Linked DNA regions of Homo sapiens. The protein of the gene in region 1 interacts with the protein of each later gene in a pairwise test. Each region holds a gene or a part of one and is shown on either strand. Other genes may lie near its edges. The genes, in order: ANKRD36B, MAB21L3, GLIS2 and TNFAIP8L1.

What was found.
Region 2: the proteins of ANKRD36B (region 1) and MAB21L3 interact in binary tests that used the Homo sapiens proteins (3 or more experiments, as listed by UniProt).
Region 3: the proteins of ANKRD36B (region 1) and GLIS2 interact in binary tests that used the Homo sapiens proteins (3 or more experiments, as listed by UniProt).
Region 4: the proteins of ANKRD36B (region 1) and TNFAIP8L1 interact in binary tests that used the Homo sapiens proteins (3 or more experiments, as listed by UniProt).

The regions. Positions count from the first base shown.
Region 1 is NC_000002.12:97,491,558-97,496,305, forward strand, and holds the end of ANKRD36B (ankyrin repeat domain-containing protein 36B), read right to left. Parts: intron 1,390-4,748; exon of another isoform or gene 1,299-1,389; 3' UTR 1,106-1,298; downstream 1-1,105.
Region 2 is NC_000001.11:116,127,643-116,135,675, forward strand, and holds part of MAB21L3 (protein mab-21-like 3), read left to right. Parts: coding exon 1-2; intron 3-502; coding exon 503-697; intron 698-5,489; coding exon 5,490-5,723; 3' UTR 5,724-8,033.
Region 3 is NC_000016.10:4,332,034-4,340,066, forward strand, and holds the end of GLIS2 (zinc finger protein GLIS2), read left to right. Parts: intron 1-181; 5' UTR 182-247; coding exon 248-419; intron 420-1,313; coding exon 1,314-1,486; intron 1,487-2,767; coding exon 2,768-2,944; intron 2,945-3,026; coding exon 3,027-3,160; intron 3,161-3,241; coding exon 3,242-3,360; intron 3,361-4,691; coding exon 4,692-5,491; 3' UTR 5,492-7,562; downstream 7,563-8,033. UniProt on the Homo sapiens protein: Can act either as a transcriptional repressor or as a transcriptional activator, depending on the cell context. Acts as a repressor of the Hedgehog signaling pathway. Represses the Hedgehog-dependent expression of Wnt4.
Region 4 is NC_000019.10:4,634,826-4,643,156, forward strand, and holds the start of TNFAIP8L1 (tumor necrosis factor alpha-induced protein 8-like protein 1), read left to right. Parts: upstream 1-4,690; 5' UTR 4,691-4,804; intron 4,805-5,191; exon of another isoform or gene 5,192-5,334; intron 5,335-6,126; exon of another isoform or gene 6,127-6,175; intron 6,176-8,331. UniProt on the Homo sapiens protein: Acts as a negative regulator of mTOR activity.

The DNA.
Region 1 (4,748 bases):
CACGCGCAAGAGCAAGGAGCCATCTTTGCTGTTTGTGCAACTTAGTCGTTACAGCCCGCGGGCTCTGGAGAATCCATACCTACCGGGGCAGAAGGGATATATCATCAGCACAGCACAGCTACTCTACAAAATCTTAGAAGGCAGATTCTTTTACCAGGTTCCTGATCCATTCCTCCTTACTGGGCAGGACCTCGACAACTCCTTCCCGGGGAGAATGTAAATCTCTGTCAGCTCGAGAACACCGGTGGGGTGGTGGAGGCCCCAGGTGGGAGGTCCCACCCAGAGAGGAGGAAAGAATCAGGGATCTGTGTAAAGAATCTGCCTGGCCACTATTTGGTAGAGCAGTTGTGATGTGCTGGGGGATCCCTTCCACCCCCAGTCATTTGGGACTCTCCAAAGCTGGCCCCATCCTCTCCCCCAGGCCCCAGTTGGAAGGACTCCCACTGGGCAGGAACTCCAGAACTCCCTCCCAGGGAGAATTCAAATTCCTCTCAGCCCCAGACACCAGTGGGGTAGCTGGAGGCCCTGGTTGGGAGGAACAGATTGGGAATCCCCTTAAAGATTCTGTCTGGGGCCGGCCACGGTGGCTCATGCCTGTAATCCCCATACTTCGGGAGGCCCAGCAGGGTGGATCACTTGAGGTCAGGAGTTCCAGACCAGCCTGGCCAACATGGTGAAACCCCATCTCTACTAAAAATAAAAAAATTCGCTGTGCGTGGTGATGGGCACCTGTAGTCCTAGCTACTTGGGAGGCTGAGGCAGAAGAACTGCTTGAACCAGGGCTGTGATGGGTGCTGTAAGCCGAGATCATGCCACTGCACTCCAGCCTGGGTGACAGAGCAAGACTCCTTCTCAAAAAAAAAAAAAAAAAAAAAAAAAAAAAAAAGGATCTGGGCACATGTTGGGAGAGCAGCTGTGCTATTCTAGGGATCCCTTCTACCCCACCAGTTTGCACTGTCCAAAGCCCACAGGCTGGAATGGCTGTGTCACCCAAACAGCAAAGATGGCGGCCAGCTCCTCCCCTGGGAAACTCATCCCAGGGAGCTCCAGCATCCTTGGCACAAGCTGGCAAGTATTGGCTGAAATGACAGGTGCCCTGGAGAAATTTGAAAGGGTTATCCACATCCGGCTGCTGATTATTTTCACAATTTTCCTGAGATGTCGTTATCATTCTTTGACTCTCCTTTCTATAGTCAGACATTTGGCTCTCAGAGGTGACTTTCTGGCTGAAGAATGTGGATTCGTCACTGTCTTGTGCTCAATGTAGAGGGGGCTCTTAATTCCAGAAATGTCCATATCTGATGAAAGAAAGCGAAGAATGAAACAAAAAGAGATATGTACCGTATTCATAAGTAGATTCAATGCTCTTAATTCCAGAAATGTCCATATCTGATGAAAGAAAGCGAAGAATGAAACAAAAAGAGATATGTACCGTATTCATAAGTAGATTCAATGCTATTAAGATGTCAGTTCTTTCCAATGTATAGATTCAATGCAATTCTACTCTAAATGAAAATGTTTATATGGAGAGGCAAAAGACCTTGAATAGCTAACACCATATTGAAGGAGAAGAACAAACTTGGAGGACAGACACTACTCAATTTCAAGACTTACCCTAAAGCTACAGTAATGGAGACAGTGTGGTATTAGTGAAAGAACAAACGGATAAAATGAGATAGAGAGTTCACAAATAGAAACACATTAATACATTCGATTAATTTTTGACAAAAAAGTAAAGGCATTATGATGATGAAACAGTTTTTTCAGGAAGGGCTGCTGGAATACCTGGATATCCACATGCAAAAAAAAAATAAATTGCAGACCTTACACCCCCACCAAAATTAACTCAAAATGGATCAGCAACATAAATATACAAAAAACTATAAAATTTATAGAAGATAATATAGAAGGAAATACAGATTATCTTGGGTTTAATGATGACCTTTAGAAAAAACACCAAAGTTGAAGTCAATAGAAGAAAGAATTGACAAGCTGGACTTGATGAAAATGTAACATTTTTACACCATTAAAGACACTGAAAGAAAAGAGAAACCACAGATGGAAAAAAATTTGCCAAAACGTATCTGATTAAGAACTATTATTCAAAACATATTAGTATTCTTAAAGCTGAGCAGTAAAAGACATGAGCTAAAGACCTTAACAAGTACCTCACCAAGTAAATTATACAAATGGAAAATAAGCATATGTAATGAGGCTACACATAATATTTCCTCAGAGAAATGCAACCATGAGATGCCACTGCACACGTATTAGAATAACCAAAATCTAGAACCACTGACAACATCAAACGCTGGCAAGGATGTGGAGCAAGAGGAAACTTCATTCATTGCTTGTGGGAATGCAAAATGGTGCAGTCACTTCTTGAAAGTTGTATTCTATGTACCTCAACAGCATGGCCTTCACTGTTCATATTCCTATTATCATTTTGGTCGACCACTTAACCAAGGTCTAATTAAGTTCCACAAGTTTCCTCATCTTCCTGTCTTCTTTGCCTATTACCCAGTTCCAAAGCAAATTCTGCATTATCAGGTGTTTTTATAGCAAAACCCCACTCCTTGGTACTAATTTCTGTGTTAGCAACACAGAATAACACAGAAAAGAGCAACACGGAAAAACACAAATTTTTGTGTTGCTATAAAAAAATAGCTGAGACTAGGTAATAAGGTATAAGGAACAGGTATAAGACTAGGTATAAGGAACAGAGGTTTGTTTGGCTCACAGTTTTGCAGGCTGTAGAAGAAGAATGGCAGTGGCATCTGCACAGCTTCTGGTCAGGGACCCAGAAGGCTTTTACTTGTGGCTAAAGGTGAAGAGACAACGGGTATGACACACATGGCTAGAGAGGTAGGAAGAGAGGGGAGAGGTGCCACACTGTTTTAAACAACCACCTTTCGTGTAATGCAGTGAGAACTCACTCATTAGTGAAAAAAGGGCAAAAAGCTATCCAGGAGAGATCAACCACCATGACCCAAACACCTCCCACTAGGTCCCACCTCCAACATTGGGGATCAAATCTCGACACAATATTTGGAGGGTACAAATTTGCAAACAATATCACTCTCTTTTTGTCTTTAACTTTGGACAATTTGATTATAGTGTATCTTGTTGTGAGTCCCTGGATTCACCTTATTTGGTTTCCTTTGGGCTTTCTGGATCAGGCTTTCTGTTTTCTTCCCCATGCTTGATAAATTCTCTGTCATTATTCCTTTAAACACTTTTCCGTTCCTTTCTTCCTCACTTCTCCTTCAGGCATGCCAATAATGTGTGAGTGGTCCTGCTTGATGGTGTCCCATAACTCTCTAAAGTTGTCTTCACTCCGTTTGCATTATCTTTTTTTCTGATCCTCAGGTTAGATAATTTCCAGTGACCAGTCTCAAAGTTCACTGATAGATTCTATTAATGGACACCTCTATTAAATTTTTTCAGTTCAGTTACAGTACACTTTAGATCTATGATTTGTTTGACATTATTGTATAACGTTTTTCCTTTTCTTGAAGTTCTCAACTTGTTCTTGCAAAGCTATCTTGACCTCAGTGATTATTGTTATGACCATTATTTGGAAATCTCTGTCAGATAAATTACATATCTGCACTTCACTCAGGTGCTGGAGATTTATCTTGTTTTCTTGCTTTGAATATATTTCCCTGTTTCTTCATTTTTCCTCGACTCTCTCTGTTGGTTCCCGTGCATTTGATAAGACTGGCCTCATGTAGGAAAAGGATCTCACCAAACTTTCCAGCCAGAGATCTTCAGGTACCTCTCAAGTCCTTGTGTGCTCTAGTATTGACTGTTTTTGGTGGCTCCCTGGAACTTAGGATGTGCCACGCCTTGTCAGTAACCAGAAATTGGTTAAGGTAGGAGCCAGACAATCCAGATGTAGCTAGAAAGTTAGAAGGCTGGAGGAGTGTTTCAGTTCTTTCTAGCTACATGATGAAGATTAGTATGGACATTTATCTCCCACTCTCTCTCCATTAAGCTTGGTAGAGGATCTGTGACAAACACCTATGCACACTCTGGATGCAGCCTCTGATCCTGAGGAGATAGCTTCTGAATGTGGGCCCATTGTATGCTTACTTCTTTGTTTTCTATGGTCTAAATACATTCAAAAATACAAAATCCTGTCGACTCACAGAGCAGAGTTCTTAAGAAAACAGTTCCTTGGGCACTAACCACGGAGGTTGTAGAATTTCAATGCATAATCAAGCTCCTTCTGGGAGCTTGATTCAATGCATAATCAAGCTCCTTCCGGGAAGAATGGGTAGGCTTGGATTTATTACTGGGTTGAACCCGACATAAGACTGGTAGTGTCAAACTATGGTTCCATCTGCCAGATGAATTATACTTTGTAAGCCACATTAGCCCCCATGATGCCAGTATTTAAATACAAAGCTAGAAATGATTAATAGGGTGAGAAAAGCATGTTGAAAGCTCAGATAGGCTGAAAGCTAGGCAACTTACATCAAACAGTAAACTAAGCTGTGAATGCAAAAAAAAAAAAGTTCTTAAAGGAAATTAAACAGACTACTCCAGTGAATGCACAAATGATAAGTACAATGGTATTATTGCTGATGTGAAGACAGTTTTAGTGGTCTGGATAGAAAATCAAATGAGCCACAACATTTCGCTAAGCCAAAGCTGAATCCAGAGCTAAGCCTTAGTAACATTCTTTAATTCTATGAAGTCTGACACAGGTGAGGAGGCTGCAGAAGACAAGTTTAAAGCTAGCA
Region 2 (8,033 bases), on another chromosome or scaffold:
AGGTATCAGTGGGCGGGACCCAGCTTGCCAGAGCAGTGATGCCAACAGCTTAACCAGTCACAGCATTACTGACTGCCAATGAGTTTCCGAAGGAAAGTTGAGGTGTTACTAGATCAGCAGTTCTCAAAGTGTGGGCCCTGCAGCAGCGTCACCTGAGAACTTGTTAGAAATGCAGCTTCCCGAGCCCCCACTCTGGACCTGCTGAATGAGACCCTGTGAACAGGGCCCAGCAATCTGTGTTTTAAGAAGCCCTCTGGGTGATGTGATTCTGATGTATGCTCAAGTTGGAGAACTGCTGTAGGAGAGGAAGTGGGCACCATCTTCTAACTGTCCACATCCAAGGTGGCTTGTGGTCTCCCTGGCACCCCCTTCTCATCCCCACGTAGGATGTGCTGTCTGCCTGGTGACAAGTTCCCCAGACCAGCAGACTGCTTCAGAAATGGCTTTCTACACCAGTGAGCATTGTTCTTCTTATTTCCCAATATTTTTCTCTTTCTTCCAGTCGTTTGGATTTAACTTGTTGGCCTGTTCAAATTATCACTGGCAGCTGAGCTTCCTCCGTGCTGAGCAGGTGTTACTGGAACAGCTGGATGAAGATGGGGGCTGCCGTAGGAAGTGTTTTCAGGTCATGAGGCACCTGAAGGAGGACATCTGGTGCCCAGGGAACAGGCCGGTTATCACGTCCCACCATCTGCAGGTGAGTGTGGGGCAGGTTGGAGAAGACCCAGGGGCAGCTTTGGATAGGTCATTCTTCCTGTGGCCTCTGTAGGGCCTGGCCAGAGCCACTCAGAAGGGGTAGCATGTGTGAAAAATTCAGGATGAGGTTCTAGTATCTATATTTGCCATCCAACAAATTACTACGTATTATGGAAATATGTAAACTAGCACCATATGGGAGTCCACAACACCCCTGCCCAGGGTAAAATTTCCTCCCTCCCTTCCCTTTTCCAATTCTCTTCTATCCCACTTTTCCTCCCCTCTCACTTTTATTTTACCCACCAAACCAACCTGAGTGCTCACTAGGTGCCAGAAACCCTGCTGAGGTTCAGAAATGAATCACAAAATGTGGTTTGTGCCTCACACTTTGATGGCTTTATGTTTGCGCCAGTCTTTAAACCCACTGCAGCCTACGCACACCTCCTCATGCACACAGACCCACTAACACAGAGGGGACCAGGAAATGCAACACAGAGGTTACCACACACGTAGTGCCACACACTTCTTTCCAGGGTCCAAATCACCAGGCAAGGATCTTCCCTTGCTCTGCCAGCCCCTGCCTCTCCTTGCCCTAAACCCAACAGTACACATTCATTCATGCCTTCACTCACTCATTCAGCAAGTGTTTATTGAGATTACTCTGGGCCAGAGGCCTGCCCCAGTACCTGCTGTGGGCTCAACCTCTGCAGGCACAAAGGTGAACAGACACAGATGTGTTTCCTCACTCATGGCACTTCTGGTCTAGCATGGGAGATAGACATGGGTCAGGCAAGCCAGTGGGTGCGTGTACAATCACACAGTGAGGAAGCACTGGAAAGGGAGGAGTATGGCTCTGTGAAGGCTCAGAGCAGCAGAGCCTGACCTGGACTGGGCAGTCAGGGGGCCTCCCTGGAGAGGGGGCCTTTGACCACCCTCCCGACTCCCTCTTTCTCAAATTGTGAACCACACAGAGTGAAGTGTACTCTCATGTAGCAGCTCTGTGCAGCCTGCTGGAGTAGGGAGGTAGGAGACTCTTGCAGGACACCCCAGCCCAGCCTAGCTAGTGTGGGCTGTGAAGCCTAGCTTCAGCCCTCCTCCCTGGCCCCAGAAAGGATGGACTCCCTTTCTACTCAGGTAAGCACAAGTCCCTGGGGCAGTCACCTATCTGTGAGGTGCCTTCCTCACATACCTCTTCCTTCTCTCATTCGATGGACAAAACTGTCTTCCAGCCCCATGTTACTCTGTCTGCTCTAAAGTAACTTATTGAAGGACAGATACCACATTGATCTTGTCCAGCTGGCATGCTGACCTAACTCGATGTTCTTATTCATTGGGAGAAGGTGAACAAAACCCCCATTATCTCTCCCAATGCTTTGTACATAGTAGCGCATTAAATATTTGTTGAGCAAATGAATGAGTGGCTTCACATCTTACTCAACTTTTCTCTTTTTTTCGCACAAAATCACTAACCTTGCTTCACCTTCTTATCTTTCCAATAACCTGTCCATTTTGACCTGCGGAAGAATCTGTTAACATCTCATTCACATGCACTGGGGCTTTTCTCTGGAGTTCCAACATTCTCAACGTGTCCCAAGCACACTTCCCTAAAAACACGCAGGCTGTTCTCCTGGATGGAGGGCATGTGCTTGCAGAAGATACTTTGATTCTTTCTGTGGATTTAGCTTCTCTTGCTTTCCTTTATACAGGCCACACTAGAAGAGGCAGAGCTGAGACGCAAACTCAAGTCTATCTCATATCAAAACCTCATAACCTTAACGATTGACTTCATTACCTCTCAATTAAGATGGATGGAAATACCATTCGGTGACATGAATATTTCAGGCAGGATTGAATGGGGCCACCATGGATCTCCCAGCCATGGCTGCTTGCAAATCTGTACTCCCCACAAGGGCTGACTTCTATTCTGATGGCTCCTAAGTCACCTGGTGGATTTTAAGGCAACTCCTTAAGGATTCTCTGTTTCAATCCTCCCTGACCCACCTGTGTGGCACAATAGGGCATCCTCAAGGATGGGCATTTTTTTTAAGTGGGCTATTTCTGGAGTAAGATAAACAGAAAGTGCTAACTGCCTTTTTCTCTGGTCTTCCATCCTTAGTCCACAGACAGAATTATCTCCCATTTAGGCATCCCTGCCCTTGAAATGAATGTGGCTGGTGATAAATGTGGTGCTAGACACCATCCCAGATGATGACTTGAGTGTGCTGGATCCTTGCCAAATCTTCATTTTGAGGAAAGTGGAAGAGGTTGGGTTGCAAAACAGCATTAGGAAGCTGTGGCACTCAGCCTTGCCTCACCTTAAGTCTGACACTCTCTTACAAGGCCCTCACCTTCTCCCCAAAAAGGCTCTGCCCCAAGACTATTTCATGTGAAGCAAAAGCTTATCTTTTATTGCCTTATTTATTCCTAAAACCCACTCAAAATACATTGGCTTGCTTATAATGAGCTTAACTGCCCCAGTTTGCTTAGGGAGATAAAAGCTTAATTAACAAGAGGAATTAACATTTTTTCTGGTATCTAGGTTATCTTCGCTTGCATGAAATTATCTCTAACTCATTTATTCATAATAACGTAATCTAAATACATAGTTGCTATGAACTTACAACTGCTCTAAAAAATAAAGACTGTATAAAAATAACCCAATATCTAAACCATAACATTAATGGATAATTCATTAATTCACTTATTCAATAAATGTTTATTAACTTCCTCTCATGGGCTAGCCTTTGCTGGGTACTGGGTAGCTTAATAGTGAATAAAAATAGGCATCATTCACTGCTCTCATAAAGTTTATAATCCAGTAGGGGAAATGATAAAATTAATCACATAAATATAAAAACTACTACTGTTGTCGCTGCTTCTTATGAGAAGTACATGACTAAGAGAGTGTGCAATGGGTGTACTAGGGAAATTTGATCTGATGGACAAAGAAGGGAAAGAAGTGTGCCCTATGCAGCCGAAGCAGGATGTGCAAAGGCTCTGTGGTAGAAGGGAGCATGAAATGGCTGGTGTGGCTACATGAAGAGAGCAAGGGAGGACACAGGTCAAGATGAGTCTGGAAAGGAAGGCAGGGACCAAACCTTATAAACCACACCACATTAAGGATGATGTTTTTAGCTAACAAACAATGGGAAGACCTTGAAGTATTTTATTTTATTAATTTTTTTTTTGTTTTTGAGACGGAGTCTCGCTTTGTTGCCCAGGCTGGAGTGCAGCGGCATGATCTTGGCTCACTGCAAGCTCCACCTTCTGGGTTCACGCCATTCTCCTGCCTTAGCCTCCCAAGTAGCTGGGACTACAGGCACCCGCCACCACGCCTGGCTAATTTTTTGTATTTTTAGTAGAGATGGGGTTTCACCGTGTTAGCCAGGATGGGACCTTGAAGTATTTTAGATGAGAAGGGAAGTAGATGTATATTGGCAGCAGTATGGATGGTGATAATTTGGATGGTGGCAAGAACAGGGATGGGCTGATGAGATCGCTACTGCAGAGGTCCAGTGAGATGTGGAGGCAGTGTGGAGGGGGATGGTAGAATAATACTGGAGGTGAAGGTAAATGGGTAGACTCGAGAAATACTTAGACAAGAGGATTACAGGACTTGACTGGGGACGGTAAGGGAGAAGGGCGACTCCTAGGTTTTCGTGTTGCACAACTAGCTAGTTAAGCAACTCTGGAGGCAGATCAGGTTTGTGCAGGAAGAGCAGGGGTTCAGTTTGGGCATGTTGGGACTGAGATAACTTTCAGATACTCAAGAGATACACGATAAGCAGGTCAGAGGAGAAGTCTGGGCTGGAGACACAAATTTGCAAGTCATTCATATGTAGTGAGAATTAGAGCTGCTGTGGTGGAGGCAACATAGAGCTGAGGAATGAATGTAGACTGAGAGGAGAAGAGGGCCTAGAATTGAGCCTCCAGAAACTCCACTTCTCAAAGGCAGGCCAAGGAGTAAAAGCCTGCCAGGGAGGCGCTGTAATGCTAGGAGAAAAAACCCAGAGAGCAGATTGCTTGGAAGTCAAGTGAAGGATGGCTCAGGAGGGAGGGTGTGGGCGAGAGAACCAGGTCTGCTGAAAGGTCAGGTAAGGTGCAGGCTGACAAAGGCCTATTAGATTTAGAAAAGTGGAGATCACTGGGCCTTGACGAGAGGAGCCTTTGAGGATTAATGAGAGAAGAATCCATATTGGAGCAGACTGAGGCAAGAAATGGGAGGAGAGGAAATGACCACAAATAATAGAGCCGACTCTCCAGAGAAGCCTGGATTTGCAGAGGGAAGAGTGAGGGCAGGAGGCAGATGTGGGGTTGGGGTTGCAGGAGAGCTCTCAACTTGTGAAAAGCAGTTGAGGAAGAGGGTAATCAGTCATATACAGTTCCTGGAAGATGGGATCCAGGGCCCTGTGGAGGGATCAGCCCCACAGGCAGAAGAGGCAGAAGCAGGGAGGAAGAGAGGTGGGTGCCGCAGTAGGCAAGATCTGTCTGGTTTGGGAGGATGAGGGGTTCCATTTTCCCCGTAAAGTAGGAGGCAAAGACATTGCCTGGATTAGTGAACATTGGAAATGTTGGAGGAGAGTGAGGGAATAGATTAGGGAAGAGGTGCGGGAGACCAGCTGGTAAACTGAAGGCCCACCTGAAGTTGGGGATTGTGAATTCATGGTAGATCCAGTCTGCCCAGGCAACTCTTTTCTCCCTCCTTCCAAGGCCACATAAGCTCAATAATTGTTTCCAAGCTATCCTCCTCAATTGCCCGAAACAATGTCTGACAGCACTTCTCCCTTCCACAGACTGTGCTCTTTTGGACCTGCGAGAAATATCCCCACTTTAAAGACTGGCAGGTCTTCAGCAAAGCATTTCTGCGCCTGGTGAGGAAACTGCACAAGTGCGTGAGCCAGCACTTCCTGAAACACTATTTCGTCCGGAACAGCAACCTCTTTCAGTGCACCAACCCGACTGAACTGGACACTGTGGCCCAAAAGCTGGCCACCTTCCTGAAGAACCCCCAGATCGGCCCGCCCTGATGGTTGCCCCGGCCTGGGAGGCTCTTGGACATTTTATTCTGGCTTAACATTGTTCTTTGGATGGTTCCTCAGTCAGGTGCCAGGATCCTGCCTAGGAGAAAGGCCACGAATGGCAGCGGAAATTACATCAAACCAGAAACACTTCAGCAGGGGGAAAACTGTGCCCCAGGATGTCTGGCCCAGGCCTCCCTGGAGCCCAGCAAGCATTTCTGCCCTAGCTAATTCTCCTGGAGACAGCTCTCATCAGGCTTCCCCAGGCACAGATTTGGAACTGGTGACAGTTCTGAACTTAGTTTCCCTTGTTCAGGCTGTGATCGTCTCACAGTGAAGATGGAGACAGAACCCCTGGAAGTCTGGACATGAGCCTGCTGGCCAATACTGTGCCCAGCCCACTGATCATGGGCACATTCTCCTGCCATTTGTAAAATGGGAATGTTAACGTGCCTACCTCTGAGCAGGGCTGTGTGCCTATGAAACTGTGCTGGCGCCTTTTCAAGGGGAAGGCATTGGATCAACACAAAGTGTTCCTGGTTGGTTGAGTAGCTGGTGTTTGCATCCTGGATCGGTACCCACAGCACTGACGCAAAATTGCACCTGATGAGTTAGTGAGCCTGTGCTTCCTTGCTGCCCTCCAGCTTCCTTAGCATGTGGGTCAGTGGCTCCTGATGTTCTGTCTGCTTCGCTGGTATTCTCTAAGCAGGGAGGGGAATGGTTTTGATGATAAGTGTAAGTCAAAGATGAAAGTACAACTCTTGGCCTGATCCCAACCATAGCCCTCTCTTTGCTTCCCATGCCATGGGCCATGGATGGAACTTCCTTATATATTTATGTAAATAACCTAGTACTATGATCTGCATGGAGTGACCTTAGGTGTCTGTCACTGCTCAGTGTGTTCCTTTGCTCACTTCATTCACTCACTCACTCATTGACAAATAATGCTCATTAGGCACCGGGAACACAGCAAAGAGCAAAGTGGATGAGGACCTCCCCCTGGGGATGCCACCTAATGGTGGAGACAAGAAATGAACGACAGATAAACACGCACAGTTATTACAGATGGAAGCAAGTGCTTCAAAGGAAATAAACAGAATGTTGAAGTAGAGTCCACAGAAAGGTCCCCGAAGGATGAAAATGCAAATAGCTGAAGGGGAAGGAAAAGTGACCAAAGGCAGGCATGGTGGGGCTGGCATGAGTCAGAGCACCTGGCCTTGTAAAGCCAGGAAGGAATCAGTATTTTATTCTAAGATCAAAGGTGTGACATTTGGCCTCTCCAGAAGCAGAAGAGTATCACGATCTGACTGCATTTTAAACAATTGTTCTGGTAACTGCATGAAGAAGGTCTGGGGACTCACACAGGAGCTGGGCACTGAGTGCTCTTGAGCCACCCATTTGGAATTTCACAGAGGCCCACAAGGCAACATATTCTGTGTGGCACAACCGATCAGGAATTCTAGGAGTTCTCGGTGAGATCAATGGTTTTTTTCTGGCGTTTATGTAATGCTTCTCAACTCAAGGGGCTCCTTTATTACTTTTGAATGTTTTTGCCCAAATGTCTATACCAAAGATAAATTTCTAAAGCATGAACTACTGATTTTGTTTTCATGAAAATTCACATTTGAAAATGAAAATGATTACTTTTCAAAAGTACTGTAAACGGCAGGAAAGATCCAAAATTGACACCCTAACATCACAATTAAAAGAACTAGAAAAGCAAGAGCAAACACATTCAAAAGCTAGCAGAAGGCAAGAAATAACTAAAATCAGAGCAGAACTGAAGGAAATAGAGACACAAAAAACCCTTCAAAAAATTAATAGATCCAGGAGCTGGTTTTTTGAAAGGATCAACAAAATTGATAGACTGCTAGCAAGACTAATAAAGAAAAAAAGAGAGAAGAATCAAATAGATGCAATAAAAAATGATAAAGGGGATATCACCACCGATCCCACAGAAATACAAACTACCATCAGAGAATACTACAAACTCCTCTACGCAAATAAACTAGAAAATCTAGAAGAAATGGATAAATTCCTCAACACATACACTCTCCCAAGACTAAACCAGGAAGAAGTTGAATCTCTGAATAGACCAATAACAGGATCTGAAATTGTGGCAATAATCAATAGCTTACCAACCAAAAAGAGTCCAGGACCAGATGGATTCACAGCCGAATTCTACCAGAGGTACAAGGAGGAACTAGTACCATTCCTTCTGAAACTATTCCAATCAATTGAAAAAGAGGGAATCCTCCCTAACTCATTTTATGAGGCCAGCATCATCCTGATACCAAAGCCGGGCAGAGACACAACTAA
Region 3 (8,033 bases), on another chromosome or scaffold:
CTGAGGAGGCTGTTGGCTCTCCCCCCATGATAGCTGCCGGCCAGGTCGCTCGGAGGGTCTCCCTACCCAGGAGACAACCTCACACTGCCCCCTGCTCCTGCTCCTGTTAGACTGTCATGAGTACAGCCCGAGGAGAAGCCTGGGGTCTCAGTGCCACAGCACAGCTCCTGTCCTTCCCCAGGTTCCTGCGTGAAGACCAGCTGGGAGCCCACTGCCTGCTGCCACCTCCAACTCCGGCCCCCTCACCATGCACTCCCTGGACGAGCCGCTCGACCTGAAGCTGAGTATCACCAAGCTCCGGGCGGCAAGAGAGAAGCGGGAGAGGACGCTGGGTGTGGTCCGGCCCCGTGCTCTGCACAGGGAGCTGGGCCTGGTGGATGACAGCCCCACACCTGGCTCTCCAGGCTCCCCGCCCTCAGGTACTGGCCCTGGGCAGGGCAGGGGGACTTAGCCCTGATCCAGTCATGGTGACAGGGAGAATGGCCAAGTGTGTCCACCAGCATGTAGCTGCAGCCCCTCTCGGCTTCCGGTTCATGGGAAGCCCGCACGCTTGTCCTTCCATCCGCCCAGCATCGTATGTCTGCAGGGAGGTGGGAGCTGCAGTGCCCAGCTCACGTGGCTGGCACACGATGCAAACTGAGGCCTCTAGGCAGATCTGGAACAGAGCTGGTCGGGCAACCAGGCATTCAGAAGGAGCGGCAGTAGTCCCAGGACCTGCACCCTAGGCTGTGGGGTGGTGCCGCTGGCCAACCTGGGCAGTAGAGGCTGGGTCTGAGCCCAGGAGGTGCCTCTCAGGGATTCCCGGTGCTTGGGCCCAGGGTGGTGGGCACCACTTCTGCCCTGCCTCCAAGAGCAGAGTCACCCGAAAACCAGATTCACCGCTTGTCTGAAGGGGAAGGCTATGGGAGCAGCCCAGCCCGAACCTGCCACTTTACAGAAGGGAACACTGAGGCAGGAAGGGGCCTGGGAAAAGCTAGAAAGGTTCCTACCTGCCCGTCTGACAGGGACCCAGGGGCCCTGGGTTCGAGTCCTGTTCTGTTATTAACCCTGCGTGCCAGACCATTCCCGTCTGCAAAGCGGGCACTTCCCCCCTCCCCGGCTCACGGGGGCCAAGCTCTGGCGGCTGGTAAAGCTCAGAGGTGGTGGGTGGTGTCACACACCTGTCAGCTCCACAGGCTGCTCCTCACATTCGTGTGGTCTGGGGGCATGGCTGGTGTCTGCTCCCAAGGTCACAGTGGGGGTTCGGAGGCAGGAGTACCTGGCCCACTGGGACTCTACACTCCAGCACACCCTGAACTGTGCCTCTCCCTCAGGCTTCCTGCTGAACTCCAAGTTCCCCGAGAAGGTGGAGGGACGCTTTTCAGCAGCCCCTCTCGTGGACCTCAGCCTGTCACCACCATCTGGGCTGGACTCCCCCAATGGCAGCAGCTCGCTGTCCCCCGAGCGCCAGGGCAACGGGGACCTGCCTCCAGTGCCCAGTGCCTCGGTAAGGAGGGGTGAGAGTTCCGGAGAGAGGGGTGGACTGGTTTCCTGGGGTTGCCATGACAAAGTACCCCAACACTGAGTGGTTTAAAAAACAGATGTGTTACCCCTCATAATTCTGGAGGCTGGAGTCTACCTGGAAGGCTCTAGGGGAGAACCTTCCCTGCCTCTCTCCTGCCTTCTGGCAGCTTCTGGAAATGCCTGGCACTCTAGCCTGGTAGCTGCTTCACTCCAGGCTCTGCCCTGTCTTCACACGGTCTTTGTCCCTCTGTGTCCGAATCTCTCTCTGGTTTCTCTTATAAAGACACCAGTCATGGCCGGGCACGGTGGCTCACACCTGTAACCCCAGCACTTTAGGAGGCTAAAGTGGGAAGATCGCTTGAGCCCAGGAGTTCAAAACTAGCCTGGGCAACATAGCAAGACCCCATCTCTATTTATTTTTTTGAGACAGAGTCTTGCTTCATTGCCCAGGCTGGAGGCCAGTGGCCCGGATCTCAGCTCACTGCAACCTCCGCCTCCCGGGTTCAAGCGATTCTCCTGCCTCAGCCTCCCAAGCTGGGACTACAGGTACACACCATCACACCTGGCTACTTTTGTATTTTTAGTAGAGACAGGGTTTCTCCATGTTGGTCAGGCTGGTCTTGAACTCCTGACCTCAACTGATCCGCCCATCTCGGCCTCCCAAAGTGCTGGGATTACAGGCGTGAGCCACTGTGCCCGGCCTTTTTTTTTTTTTTTTTTAAACAGGGTCTAGCTCTGTCACCCAGGCTGGAGTGCAGTGGCATGATCTCGGCTCACTGCAACCTCTGCCTCCCAGGTTCAAGCAATTCTCCTGCCTCAGCCTCCCAAATAGCTGAGATTACAGGCATGTGCCATCACGCCTGGCTAATTTTTGTATTTTTAGCAGACATGGGGTTTCACCATATTGGCCAGGCTGATCTTGAACTCCTGACGTCAAGTGATCCGCCCACCTCAGCCTCCCAAAGTGCTGAGATTACAGGCGTGAGCCACCGCACCTGGCTATATATTTTTTTTAATTAAGAAAATAAAAATTTAAAACACACCAGTCACTGGGTGTTGGGCCCACCCTAATCTAGTGTGACCTCATGTTAACTTGATTACATCTGCAAAGATCCTAGTTCCAAATAAGGCCACATGCACAGGTAGGGGCTGGGGAGAAGAGGACCTGAATGTCTCTGTTTGGGGACACCATTCAGTCCACTACCGATGGGACGGGGGGCTCTGGGCCAGCAGGACCTTGACTAGCCCTCCCCTCGCACCCCAGGACTTCCAGCCACTGCGCTATTTGGATGGTGTCCCCAGCTCCTTCCAGTTCTTCCTGCCCCTCGGCTCCGGGGGGGCCCTGCACCTGCCTGCCTCCTCCTTCCTTACCCCTCCCAAGGACAAGTGCCTCTCGCCAGACCTGCCCCTGCCCAAGCAGCTGGTGTGTCGCTGGGCCAAGGTGAGTGGGGGCCAGCAAGAGTAGTGTGGAGTCTGGGGCAGGTCACCCCGCATGGGCTCAGAACACTTCCCATCCTCCGCAGTGTAACCAGCTCTTTGAGCTCCTGCAAGACCTGGTGGACCATGTCAACGATTACCATGTCAAGCCCGAGAAGGATGCGGGGTACTGCTGCCACTGGGAGGGCTGCGCCCGCCATGGCCGAGGTTTCAACGCCAGGTGAGGTGGGGGAGAGAGGGGTAGAGGGAGGACTGGGGTCTCCAGTGAGCTGAGCCGTGCCCCCCGCCCTCCCTGGAGCAGGTACAAGATGCTCATCCACATCCGCACACACACCAACGAGAAGCCACACCGCTGTCCGACCTGCAGCAAGAGCTTCTCCCGCCTGGAGAACCTGAAGATCCACAACCGGTCGCACACAGGTAAGAGGCCGGGGCCGGGCGGCTTGGCCCATGAAGGGGGCGCTCAGCTGAGACCGGCTGGGCAGGTCCCCAGGGGGAGGGGACTGTTAAGTAAATCCCGGGCCTCAGAGATAAGGGTTGATGTCATCGCCCAGGGGTCCCTTTTCCAATGCAGTTTGCTAGGGGAAGCATCCCCTGGGGGTCAGACCCCCACCCAGCACCTGCTCTTGGAGCACCAATGCCATTTCCTGGTTCCCGTGGGTATCTTCTGACTAATGCCACCTCTGTGATCGCAGAGGCCAGGTCGGCTTCACTCCTCACTACAGCCCAGGCCCATACCAGGACAGCTCTGGTTGTCAGAGCCACAGACATAATTTTACATTTCCTAATCGCTGCATAAAACACAGCAAAAATAAATGGGTGAAATTAATTGTAATATGGTTCGTTGACCCCGGTACATCCAACGTGTTATCAATTCATTATTAAAGACAAATCAGTGAGATATTGAAGTTCTTCATTTCATGACAAAGCCTCAAGGAGCTGATGTGTATGTTTTTTCCTGGTGTTTATTTCACCCTGGCAGCACATCTCCAGGTGGAGAGCCATGTATCAGGAGGTCAGTCACTACATGTGGCCCCCTGCTCTGGCCAGGGCAGCAGAAGATGCCTGGTGAACCTTCAGCCATTTGTTGAGTGAGGGCAGTAGCGCCCAGGCAGCACTCCCTGTGGCCAGGCCCACGCTGGGCGCCTCGTGCCAGGATGTGATCTCCAAGGCCATGGTGTCTTTTTTTTCTTGAGACAGACTCACTCTGTCACCCAGGCTGGAGTGCAGTGGCATGATCTTGGCCCACTGCAACCTCTGCCTCCCAGGTTCAAGTGATTCTCCTGCCTCAGCCTCTGAGGTAGCTGGGATTACAGGCACCTGCCACCACACCCAGCTAGTTTTCGTAGTTTTAGTAGAGACGGGGTCTCACCATGTTGGCCCTGCTGGTCTGGAACTCCTGGCCTCAAGTGATCTGCCTGCCTTGGCCTCCCAAAGTGCTGAAATTACAGGCGTGAGCCACCGGGCCCGGCCTCCAAGGCCATGTTCTGCTGCTGAAAGGCACATCCTCTGTAGCAGAGGGTGCAGGGCGAGGCTAGGCAGAGCTGGAGTCAACCAGGCTGAGTTTTCAGCCTCTGTGCCCTGCCTGGGGGCAGATCTCATGCCATGTGCTGGGGATGCCCCCTGCCCCCAGAATTGGGGCATCTATGTTCCCAGGGAGTGCTTGGCCCGGGGAAATGTTGAGTGCATGGGGTGAGACCCAGGAAGGGGAGAGACCCCTCATGGCGGCACTGCACTGCACCACCCTGCAGGTGAGAAGCCCTACGTCTGCCCCTACGAGGGCTGCAACAAGCGCTATTCCAACTCCAGTGACCGCTTTAAGCACACGCGCACCCACTATGTGGACAAGCCCTACTACTGCAAGATGCCCGGCTGCCACAAGCGCTACACGGACCCCAGCTCACTGCGCAAGCACATCAAGGCCCATGGCCACTTTGTGTCCCACGAGCAGCAAGAGCTCCTGCAGCTGCGCCCACCCCCCAAGCCGCCACTGCCCGCCCCCGACGGCGGCCCCTATGTCAGTGGGGCCCAGATCATCATCCCCAACCCAGCTGCCCTCTTTGGAGGCCCTGGCCTGCCCGGCTTACCCCTACCCCTGGCCCCCGGCCCCCTTGACCTCAGTGCCCTGGCCTGTGGCAACGGTGGGGGCAGTGGGGGTGGGGGGGGCATGGGCCCTGGGCTGCCAGGCCCCGTCCTGCCTCTCAATCTGGCCAAGAACCCGCTGCTGCCCTCGCCCTTTGGGGCTGGCGGACTGGGCTTGCCTGTGGTCTCCCTCCTTGCTGGCGCAGCTGGTGGCAAGGCCGAGGGGGAGAAGGGGCGTGGGTCGGTGCCCACCAGGGCCCTGGGCATGGAGGGCCACAAGACGCCCCTTGAAAGGACGGAGAGCAGCTGCTCCCGGCCAAGCCCCGATGGACTCCCCCTGCTGCCAGGCACCGTGCTGGACCTGTCCACGGGCGTCAACTCAGCTGCCAGCAGCCCAGAGGCGTTGGCCCCTGGCTGGGTGGTCATCCCGCCGGGCTCGGTGCTGCTCAAACCGGCTGTGGTGAACTGAGCCCATCCTGCGGACAGTTGTGGTGCCCCCCCGGCAGCTCCCGGCACTGCCCCCGACGAACGGAAACTCTTCTGTGAAATAGCAATAATGTCCTACTGCCCGGGCAGCCCCAGCCCAGCCCGCCGGGAGCAAGGATGGTGCTAGGTCATTCATGGCTGGCCTCCCAGCCCCCGGGTGGGGACCTGGCCTGTCATGCAGGGAGAGCTGTGCTCCTGGGTGCTGAAGCCTCGCTCCTGTCTGTCCCCCACCACCTGGCCCTCAGCTTCTGAGAGGCTTTCCCCTGCCCGACCTCCTCCCGTTTCCCTCTCCCACCCTGGCACCTCCCTCACCTAGTGACCACCCATGGCAAGTTGCCCTCTCCCAGCAGAGGGGGTGGGTGGGGTGGCATCTGCCCTCCCTGCTAGCACCAGGCTCCCCCTTCCTGAGAGGAGCCCCCAGGGACCAGAGGCCTGCCCTTCCCTCCTAGGCTTACCCAGCCCCTGCCCTGGGGGCTCCTTGGACCCCTTTCCCTCTGACCCTGCCTCCAGAGGGAAAGCAAGACAGATGCAGGCCCCTGCAAAGCCCCAGGTAGAAGCATGCCCCCCAGGACAAGGCGCCTCCCACTAGTTAGGAGGAGGCCCGCTCTGCAGCCGCCGTCCTCACCCCAGGCCAGGCCTGCAGTACCAGACGGGATAGCTGGCCACTCCACCCCTGCACCCCAGGGTCTCCTCCCTCTACCTTTTGGGGCACCCTGGGAGCGTGGGAAGCAGGTCCGAGGGCCCCTGAGCTGGCAAGGGGAGGTGCCAGGCCAGCTGTGGTGCCAAGATACTGAGTGACCTGGGCCCTGGCTCAGGGAGCATGTGGGGCCAGGCCCAGCGCCCCGTCTTCCTCCTTCTACCCCCGCTGGGCCTGGCCTGGGCAGCGCCCCCTGCAGAGGCCTTTGGGTCCTTGGTCCTGTAACAGGAAGGGGGAGGCTGGCTGGGGACGACCGACCACAGGCTGGGACACAGCTCCTGGTCTGGGGGCTCCAAGTGACAGCATGCAGGGGAGGGGGCTCCCAGTCAGTGCTGTGTTGGGAGCTTTCTGGAGGCTGTGGACTGAAGGCCTTGAGGGAAGCAGTGGCTGGAGGAGGGTGCTGGACCCATGACACGTTGCTTCCTCTGGCTTTTCCCTGCTGGGCCGCTTTCTCAGAGGCACTTCCCCACCCCTAACACCCAGTGGGCCCCCCCAGGTTCTGTGCCACTCAGAGGGACCCTGGCAGGGGCCAGAACCACTTAAGGGTGGTGCTGGAGGGCCTTGTGCCCCAGTCCCATCCCAGGACGCCCTGAGGGATGGACGCAGCCATGCACCCCCCATCTGGGGCCTCTCCCTGCTCCCTCTCCCACCTGGCAGCTGGGAGTTCTGGCTTCTAGGCCTGCCCTGTCACCAGGCCTCTGAGTGGCCAGGCCCTTCCACCTCCCCATCTGTAAAACGAGGCAGCTGCCCGGACAGCCTTGGGGTCCTTAGTGGCCCTGCAGGTCCTCTGGCAGCTCTGCTGACCCCACCCTCTCCCGGACTGCCCTTCTGTCCCAGAGGGGTCACCCTGACCCGGCCCACCTTGCCACTGGGCTTTGGACTCCAGCCCTGACAGGGCCCAGCCACACTGGCTCTGCCCCTCGAAGGGGCTATGAGCAAGGTAGGAGGGAGCTGGTCTCCTTTCTTCGGGCCCCACCCAGGCCCTGAGCACCCCCCACCCCTGTGAGGGCCCCAGGCCTTAAGTCCCTGGCGGGGTCATGGGTTTGCGACTTGAGCAGAGCGGAGGAACAGGGCACTGGAAGGCCGACGAGCTCAGCATGCGACTCGGTGACGGACCAGGCTCGGCAGGGCCGGTGTACTTTTTGTGGTTGTCATTGGTGTGTTGTTGCACATTCCAGGACGTCAGTATTTTAACAGGTTCTAAGTGCCTTTCTATCGTAGCTTATGTTTTCCTCCTCTTGGCTCCATTGCTGTTAGCATAGAGTTTTAAAAAAAGAGATAAGCTAATGACTATAACAATATATTCCTCCATGGGAGAGGAAGTTTATAAAGAAACAATAAAAGTGAGTTGCAAAGATGGCTTGTATGTCGTGGATGTGCCAGGAACCCGGCCCTGACATGAGGCCACCACTGCCCTGAGCCCCTGCAGGCCTGATCCGGGCTTTCTCCCCGACCCTGCAGGTGCCCCTCCCTCTCAATCTGCCGCTTAGAGCAGGAACTGGAAGGTTGGGAAGGAGGTAGGTGCTGAGGGCGCACAGGTGACAGGAACTGAGACAGAAGATTCCAGGCGGAGCATCCCAAGGTCCAAGTCCTCAGCCCACTACTGCCCGCTGCGGCTTTGGAGAGTGGTGGGCAAAGGCCCTTCTCCCCCCAGCCACATTCTGGGGTACTGTGCCCAGATTACTGAGGTGCTAGGTTCAAACCTGCCCCAGGGACAGGGTGGCTGCCGACAAGAGCTCTGGGGCCAGGAGACCGCCACCCCGTGGGAGGGGCAGGGGCGCTATGGGAGGGAGCCTCACCCTGGCACGGGTGCTGTGGAAGCAGGAGC
Region 4 (8,331 bases), on another chromosome or scaffold:
CCCAGAGCTAAGGTTCCTGGGAGTAGTCCTTTGTCAACGCTGGTTGAACATGAGGGGATAAATACCCTAGCTTTTCTGATCTCTGGGTGCGGCGATTCTCAGCTGTTTTCTTTCTTTTTCCTTTTCTTTTTCTTTTTTTTTTTTTTCAGACAGAGTCTTGCTTTGTCACCCAGACTGGAGTCCTGTGGCACAATCTCGGCTCACTGCAACCTCCCAGGTTCAACCTCCCAGGTTCAGATGATTCTCCTGCCTTAGCCTCCTAAGTAGCTGAAACCACAGGCCCTCACCACCACGCCTGGCTAATTTTTGTATTTTCTGTAGAGGTGGGGTTTCACCATGTTGGCCAGGCTGGTCTCGAACTGACCTCAAGTGATTTGCCCGCCTTGGCCTCCCAAAGTCCTGGGATTACAGGCGTGAGCCACCGCGCCCGGCTGCCGGTGTCTTATTGAGGCCATCAGACAATGCAAGAGTGCTGAGTCCCAGCACCCTGTCCTTGCAGTTTTACAAATCTCTGAATCTGCTACGATCACTGCATCCATCTTCCAGATGCAGTCACTGAGGTTCCAAAAAGTGAAGTTTCCTTTCCTGCCCGGGATGACTAAGGACGCTCTATCCCCAGGGGCAGCAGAAGATCGGGCTGCCCTCTCCCCAAACACACCCACCCACCCACCCACAGGGGCACACACGGGCACACACGCACCGTCTACCTCCCCAGACACCCGGCTGACACAGGCTGGCGTCTGCACGGCTGACACTTGTAAATCCACCCTCCTTCGGGGGCAGGCTGGCTCCTTCTCTGGCAGCAGGAAGATAGAGGGAGTTGGTTTAGTGGTTGGGGGGAAAGGAGTGCGCCCCTGACCCCATGCCCAGCCCCCGACCCCAGGGAGGGTGACAGCCCCTCCCTCTCTTCCAGTGACCTTGGGAAAGTTCCAGGAGGCCCCCGGGCCTGGACTTTGAGAGGTGAGCGCTCCAGCAAGATTCGCTCCCCTCCTTCTGTCCCTGCTCTGGGCCCGCCCACCCACTCCCTTTCTCAAGCGGCCTTGGAAAGGGTCTTGCAGAGACAGACAGATGGCCTGGGGACAGATGGCGGACGTGTAGGAGTTACCACTGGGAGAGGGGTAAGGGGGAGGGGAGTGCGTTCTGGCCCCCAAGACGAGTCCCACAGGCTCCTGCAGAACAGAATAAGCCGCCTCCTTCAAGCCCCTCAACTGGGATATCATCGTCCCCCCGCAACCAGGATCCCATCACCCCATAAACGGAATCCCATCCCCCATCCCAACCAGGGTCTCATCATCCCCGCAAACGGAGTCCCATCGACCCCACATTCAAGGTTCCATAGCTCCCCCAAACGGGATCCCATGGCACTGGGCCGGGGCAGAGGCCCGGAGAAGAGGGTCGCTAGCTGCAGGTTGCACAGCCCGGCAGGGTGCGAGGCCTGGCCTGGGGGTGCGGGTGACTCTGGTGGGTCTAGGCTCCGCGGGGAGACTTGGGCCTGGAGACCCCGCCCCGCACGCAGATCCCGCCCGCCCCGGCCGCGGGTTCCGGGGAAGCGAAGGCGCCGCCAGCCCGGGCTGTGGGCAGAGCGCGCCCTCTGCCGGGCATGATCGGAAACGGCGCGGCGGCGACTCCCGGACCCTCGGGACTCCGGACCCGACTCCCACCCGGCTGAGCTTTACCGGGTTATAGAGCCCCCAACTCTGGATCGATCCCCGACCTCCTAAGGAACCGCGACACTGGGCTGAGCTCCCGCCTTGGGCTAAACCTCAATCCCAGTAGAGCTGGGACCTGGGCTGAGACCCCAACTTTGGATAGAGCCTCTGATCTGTCTTTGAGCCCTGGTCCTGAGCCAAGCCTCAAACTCCAATAGAGTCTCCATCGACCTGAGCTCCCAACTCAGGGCTGAGCCCCCCTCTAGGCTGAGGTCTGATACGGAATAGAGCCTGCGACCCCTTCTAAATCCCGACTCTGGGCTGAGCCTGGACCCTCGATAGAGTCTCCAACTCTAGGCTGAACCCTAACCCTGGGCTGCACCCTTACTGTAGACAGAGCCCAATCCCAGCAGAGGCCCTATTCTCACTAAGCCCCATCACCCAGTAAGCCTGCATTCCCGGCCAAGATCATCCCTCCCCCACCCCTAACACCCACTGAACCCTAGCCCTCCCGAGTCCCAACCTTCTTATCTGATACAGAAAAGAGACCAGGTGTGGTGGTTCTTGCCTGTAATCCCAGCGCTTTGGGAGGCAGAAGCAGGAGGATCGCTTGAGGCTAGGAGTTCGAGACCAGCCTGGGCAACATAGTGAGACACCCCCTATCTCTATTTAAAAAAATAAAAATTAGCCGAGCTTGGTGGTGCACACCTGTGATTTCAGCTACTTGGGAGGCTGAGGCAGAAGGATTGCTTGAACCCAGGAAGTTGAGACTGCAGTAAGCTGTGACTGCACCACTGCATTCCAGCCTGGGTGACAAATCGAGACCCTGTCTAAAAAAAAAGAAAGAAAGAAAAAAGGTGAAATCATGCTAGGCTCAGATGCCTCCAGTCCTCCTGCCCTGATGGGGAGACCCCCTTGATGCTGGGGTTGCGAGAGGAGCTGTACACACCACACCAAAGTCAGACCTAATCAGGTCCTAATCCCATCTCTGCCTCATCTGGCTGTGTGGCCTGGAACCTATCCCTTCCTCCCTCTGGGGTTCCATTTCGTCATCTGTGAAATGGGACAGTCACTCCTGACTCTACCACCTTGTGCCTGTGTGACCTCAGGCAAGTTACTTCCTCTCTCTGGGCCTCAGTCTCCTCCTCCAAAATGAAATAAGAAGGTGTTTTGTTTTGTTTCTTGAAACAGAGTCTCGCTCTGTCGTCCAGGCTGGAGTGCAGTGGCGCGATCTCGGCTCACTGCAACCTCTGCCTCCTGGGTTCAAGTGATTCTCGTGCCTTAGTCTCCCAAGTAGCTGGGACTACAGGCGTGCACCACCACTCCTGGCTAATTTTTTCATATTTTTGCTTTATTTTTTATTTTTTGAGATGGACTCTTGCTTTGTAGCCCAGGCTGGAGTGCAGTGCCGCGATCTCGGCTCACTGCAATCTCTGCCTCTGGGGTTCAAGCAATTCTAGCACCTCAGCCTCCCGAGTAGCTGGGACTACAGGCGTGCACCACCACGACCAGCTAATTTTTTTTTTTTGTATGTTTTATTTTTTGAGATGGAATTTTGCTCTGTCGCCCCGGCTGGAGTGCAGTGGCCCGATCTTGGCTCACTGCAACCTCTGCCTCCAGAGTTCAAGCGATTCCCCTGCCTCAGCCTCCTGAGTAGCTGGGATTACAGGCATGTGCCACCACACCCGGCTAATTTTTGTATTTTTAGTAGAGACGGGGTTCCACGATGTTGTCCAGGCTGGTCTCAAACTCCTGACCTCAGGTGATCCGCCCACCTCGGCCTCCCAAAGTGCTGGGATTACAGGGGTGAGCCACCGGGCCCAGCCAATGAGATATTTAACTTACTTTTGCCTCCTGAGGCCTGTGCCTCGGTCTTCCTGAATCCCGTGTGCAGGTCAGGACACACAACAGGCCCTCAACAATTTGTTGTCTGGCTTCCTGGAGGAAGAAGCAGCGAGGTTGCTATGGGCTCCCTAGGCCCTAGCTGCAACCGGGACCCAGAGTTGGGCTGCAGGGCGGAAATGGTGCTGCAGGGGACCTGGGAGCAGCTCCAGGGCCTGGTTCCCAGGACTCACAGCTGCATCCTCCCCGGGGGACCCCAGCTGGCGCTGCGCAGCCGGGAGGCTCCTGTGTGTCCTGCAGGCTCATTCCTACGGAAATCGAGGCTGGACCTGGGGATCCTCTGATGAGGTCTCCAGGAGCCCTCCACCTCACCCCAAAGATTCATCTATAGCCCCACAACCCTGGGTTAGATTCATCCCTTCTTGTGGCACAGAACTCTGTATTTTTAAAATTTTAACTTATTTTGATCTTCTTCTTTTTCTTTCTTTCTTTTTTTTTTTTTTTTTGTAGAGACAGGGTCTCCCTAGGTTGCCCAGGCTGGTTTCAAACTCCTGGGCTCAAGGGATCCTCCTGCCTTGGCCTCCCAAAGTGCTGGGATTCCAGGCGTGAGGCACCACACCTAGTTGGAATCTGCATTTTAAAATGGACTCTCAGATCTTTCTGACGCGAAGGGTTCCCCGAGGCCGTACTTTGAGAAACACGCTTCTGCCGAAATTCCTATTACCCAGGCGGGTAAACTAGCCCCAGAAGGAGGAAGGGGCCCGTGCAGAACCACGTGGTTGGTCTGTTTTGCCTTTTGGCTCTCTGGTCTCTTCCTGTTGGTGTCTCTGTGCCTCCCTCCCCAGGTTCTCTGTCTGTCTCGTACTCTTATCTCTTCCCTTTTCTGTGGCCGGCACCCCCACGACGGCCTCGCCCCCGCATCCGGGCCCCTTCGCGATTCCGGAGGAATCCCCCAGAGCCGCCTGACCCCGCCCCCAGGCTCCGCCCCTTCCCCCCACTTCCCCCCCGTCGCAGTGCCCTGCTCCCATTGGCCTTTTCGTACATTGCCCGCCCTGTCATTGGCTAATCCGGAGCGCTCGGCCCGCCCCCCAGGCCTGGCAACTCTCCGGTCCCTTCCGCGCGGGCGGGGCGAGTGGAGGGCGTGGCCTGCCGAGGGGCGAGGCGAGTGGAGGGCGGGGCCGCGCTGCCCGCCCCGCCCCGGCCCCGGCCCCGGCTCCGGCGCTGCTCCCACCGCCGCGGCAACGGCCCCGGCCCACGGAGGCGGCTGGACGGACCCCCGACGGTTGGACGTACGGACTCTGCTTCGAGAGTAGGTGAGCGAGCAGTGCCGGGGCGCCCCCCATTTCAGCGCATCTCGGGGGCCACCTGGCCGCCCTCTGTCTCTCCCGCCCCTTAATGCTTCTGCACCCCACCGCCTGTCCGTCTACATTCCTGCCTCAGTTTCCGTCTGTCTCTCTGTCACTCTCGCTGTATAGGTTAGGGGGAGACAGATTGAGTCTCAATTGCCCCCCTTGGCGTGGGGCTCTGCTCTGGGACCAGCACCCCCATCCCCCATGTGGACTCTAGTGGACTCTGCCCCCTTTAACTGTAGGGCCGCAGGTGCTCAGGCCAGATTCCAGAACCCTGAGGGCATTCCAGGCGGTGGGCAGCTGGGCCAGCCGTGCGGAGGTGGGCATGACTGTAGCTTCTAGCTAAACCAGGCATCGGTCCAGGCATCGGTGGCGGGGAGCCAGGCCTAGGCCAGCCCGGGCCCACCCAGACTGGCCCCTAATGAGCTCCCAAGTGGCCTGTGGGGACTTGGCCTCAGTTTTGCCAGCTGTGAACTGGGACCGTCGCTGCTAAGGTAATTGGCAGGTGATCTGAAGGACACCTGCCGCCTCCTGGCCTTTTCTGTGAAGTCGAACTAGGCCCATTTCCTGGGATGGGAAACTAAGGCCTAGAAAGAGGCCAATGCTTCCAATGTTTGTCCAGGGAAGTGGGGACAGAGGCAGGACAGAATCTGTTTTCTCTGCATCCTCACATTTCCCAGCACCTTCTCTATGGAGGGGGGAAGGGCTGGTGGAGGAGCAGCCCCAGGTGTAAACAGGCCGCCAGAGTTTATTTCCTGAGCCAGTCCCAGCTCAGCTGGAGGCGATGAACGCCTTGGGAGGCCCCAGGGGGGCCAGCCCAGTGGTGGCGGAGCTTGGACCAATCTAGGTTTGAGCTCTGCCACCCGCATGATATCTTGAACCAGTTTTTCAATTCTGCGGAGCCTCAGTTTCCTCATCTGTAAAACAGGAGTGGGTCGTAACTCCCCAAGTTGAGGGCTGCTGGGGGATCAGATGCAGGAATACAGGCCCTGCTCATAACCTGCCTGACTCTCGCTGTGGCTCTGCCCCAGTCACACTGGCCTCCTCCTGTTTCTCCAACACCCCAGGCGAGGTCCTCTCTCAGGGCCTTTGCATGGGCTGTGCCCTCTGCCACTACGGCAGGTCCGAGGGCGCCAACTTTGAAACATAACAAGCTCCCTGGATGGGCCGGACCCAGGACCTGCACAGGCAAGGGCTGGGAGGGGCAGAGGAGGGGCCGCTCAGGGACGCTGTACCTATGGAAACCGTGAACAAAGGGCTGTCTCCAGCCACACAAACACCTGGGTGAATCGGGCACTGGCCAGAGGCTGGAGCAGCCTGGGATACAGGTGGTGGGTGAGTGCCTGGACCCCTGCAGGGAATATGGGGCCGGGGGGGGGACTTGAACCCTGCTCCAATGGTGGGGTGGCTCTGCAGACGGGTGCAGGTCTGAGGCCCCGCGGTACGGCCCCTCCCACTGTGTGGCCTTGGACCGACGGTCAGGTGCCCCCAGAGCCTCAGTTTCCTCATCCCCGTTCCCCCAGGGGTCAGCCCAGGTGGGTGAGGGGTCTTTTGATTGCTTGACAATTCAGTATGGTGGGTTCCGGAGGCCTCAGTGTCCCTGTCTGTCCAATGGGGCCACGAAAGGGTGCCTTGAGGACAAAACTCCAGCCGTTGACAGGGGAACACTCCTCCCAGAGAGACGTCAACGCTAAAAAATGACTCACACTTGCCCAGGTACAGCTCAGGTGTTACAGACGGGGAGCAGGGCAAGGAGGCAGAGCGAGAGGCAGGAACGGCCCAGTTCCACAGCATGCCTGCCCCTTCCCAGCATCTCCCGACACCCCTCAGCAGATGACCTCCCTGGAATCACACCCGCTCGAGCTTTGACGCAGGGACCTCTGGCAGAGTTCTTGGGATCTTGTAAATCCCCAGCTTCTAGGCCTCAGTTTCCCCATCTGTCCAATGGGGCTGGTCATCTCCTTTTTCTTGTGGGGCTGAGATAACTGTGGGGAGGGAGGGTGCTTTGAGGGGTGGGGGAGATTCAACAAGATATTGTTAAAAGCCCGAGGAGGGGATTACAGGACACAGTACTTCTAGAAGCTTCCTAAGGCTTCGATCCTTCCCCTCTGGGGTGGGCTCTGGGAGAGACGAGACTTGAACCCCAAATGTGCCATTGACTAGGATGAGGAAAGGATTGCACTAGGTTAAAGGCTGGGTTCAAATTCTGATTCTGCCACATCACTGCTTTATAAACAGGCAAGCTCCTGACCCTCTGTGACTCAGTTTCCTTATAACCAAAAACTTGCAGGTCCATCTAGAGAATTTCCCAGCCTGGGCAACATGGTGAAACCCTGTCTCTACTTAAAACAAAGAAAAAAAAATTAGCCAGGTGTGGTGTCGCAGGCCTGTAGTCCCAGCCACTCTGGAGGCTGAGGTGGGAGGATCACCTGAGCCCAGGGAGGTTGAGGCTGCAGTGAGCCGAGCTCATGCCACTGCACTTCAGCCTGGGCGACAGGAGTGAAACCCTGTCTCAAAGAAAAAGAAGAGAATTGGCTGGGCGCCGTGGCTCACGCCTGTAATCCCAGCACTTTGGGAGGCTGAGGTGGCCGGATCACCTGAGGTCAGGAATTCGAGACCAGCCTGGCCAAGAGGGCAAAACCCTGTCTCTACTAAAAATACAAAAATGAGGCGGGCGTGGTGGTGGGTGCCTGTAATCCAGCTACTCAGGAGGCTGAGGCAGGAGAAACACTTAAACCCAAGAGGCAGAGGTTGCAGTGAGCCGAGATTGCACCACTGCTCTCCAGCCTGGGTTGACAGAGTGTGAGACTCCATCTCAAAAAAAAAAAAAAAATTAAAAATATACACATAAAATAAATAAAATAGATGGGGGATCTGGGAGGGCTTCCTGAGGAGGGGCCATGTAAACCCAGACCTGGATGACAAGAAGGAAACAGCCATGTGGAGACCTGGGAGAAGAGCAGCTCAGGCAGAGGGCACAGGTTGTGTAAAGGCCCTGGGGCAAGATGGCGCCTGGCATGGTAGAGGAGCAGCAAGGAGGCCCGTGGGGCTGGAGCAGTGAGGAGGAGGAGAGAGGGAGGAGGGGAGGGCAGGGAGGGGACAGGGCAGGGTGCGCAGGATCTTATGGGCTGCCAGGAATACTTGGCTTTGACCCCAAGGGAGGTGGGAGCCATGGAGGGTGGTGGGCAGGGGAAGGATGGAACCTGACTCAGGTACTCACAGGCACCCATTGGCTGCTACAGGGAGGACAGACGGGGGGCATGGGGATAGATGGTGCTGAGGGACGAGGGGACCAGGATGGAGGCTGTGGGGGAGATAAGAAGTGGGTTGCGTTAGGCCAGGCAGGGTGGCTCATGTAATCCCAGCACTTTGGGAGGCTGAGGCAAGTGGATCACCTGAGGTCAGGAGTTGGAGACCAGCCTGACCAACATGGTGAAACCCCATCTCTACTAAAAATACAAAAATTACCCAGGCATGGTGGCACGTGTCTG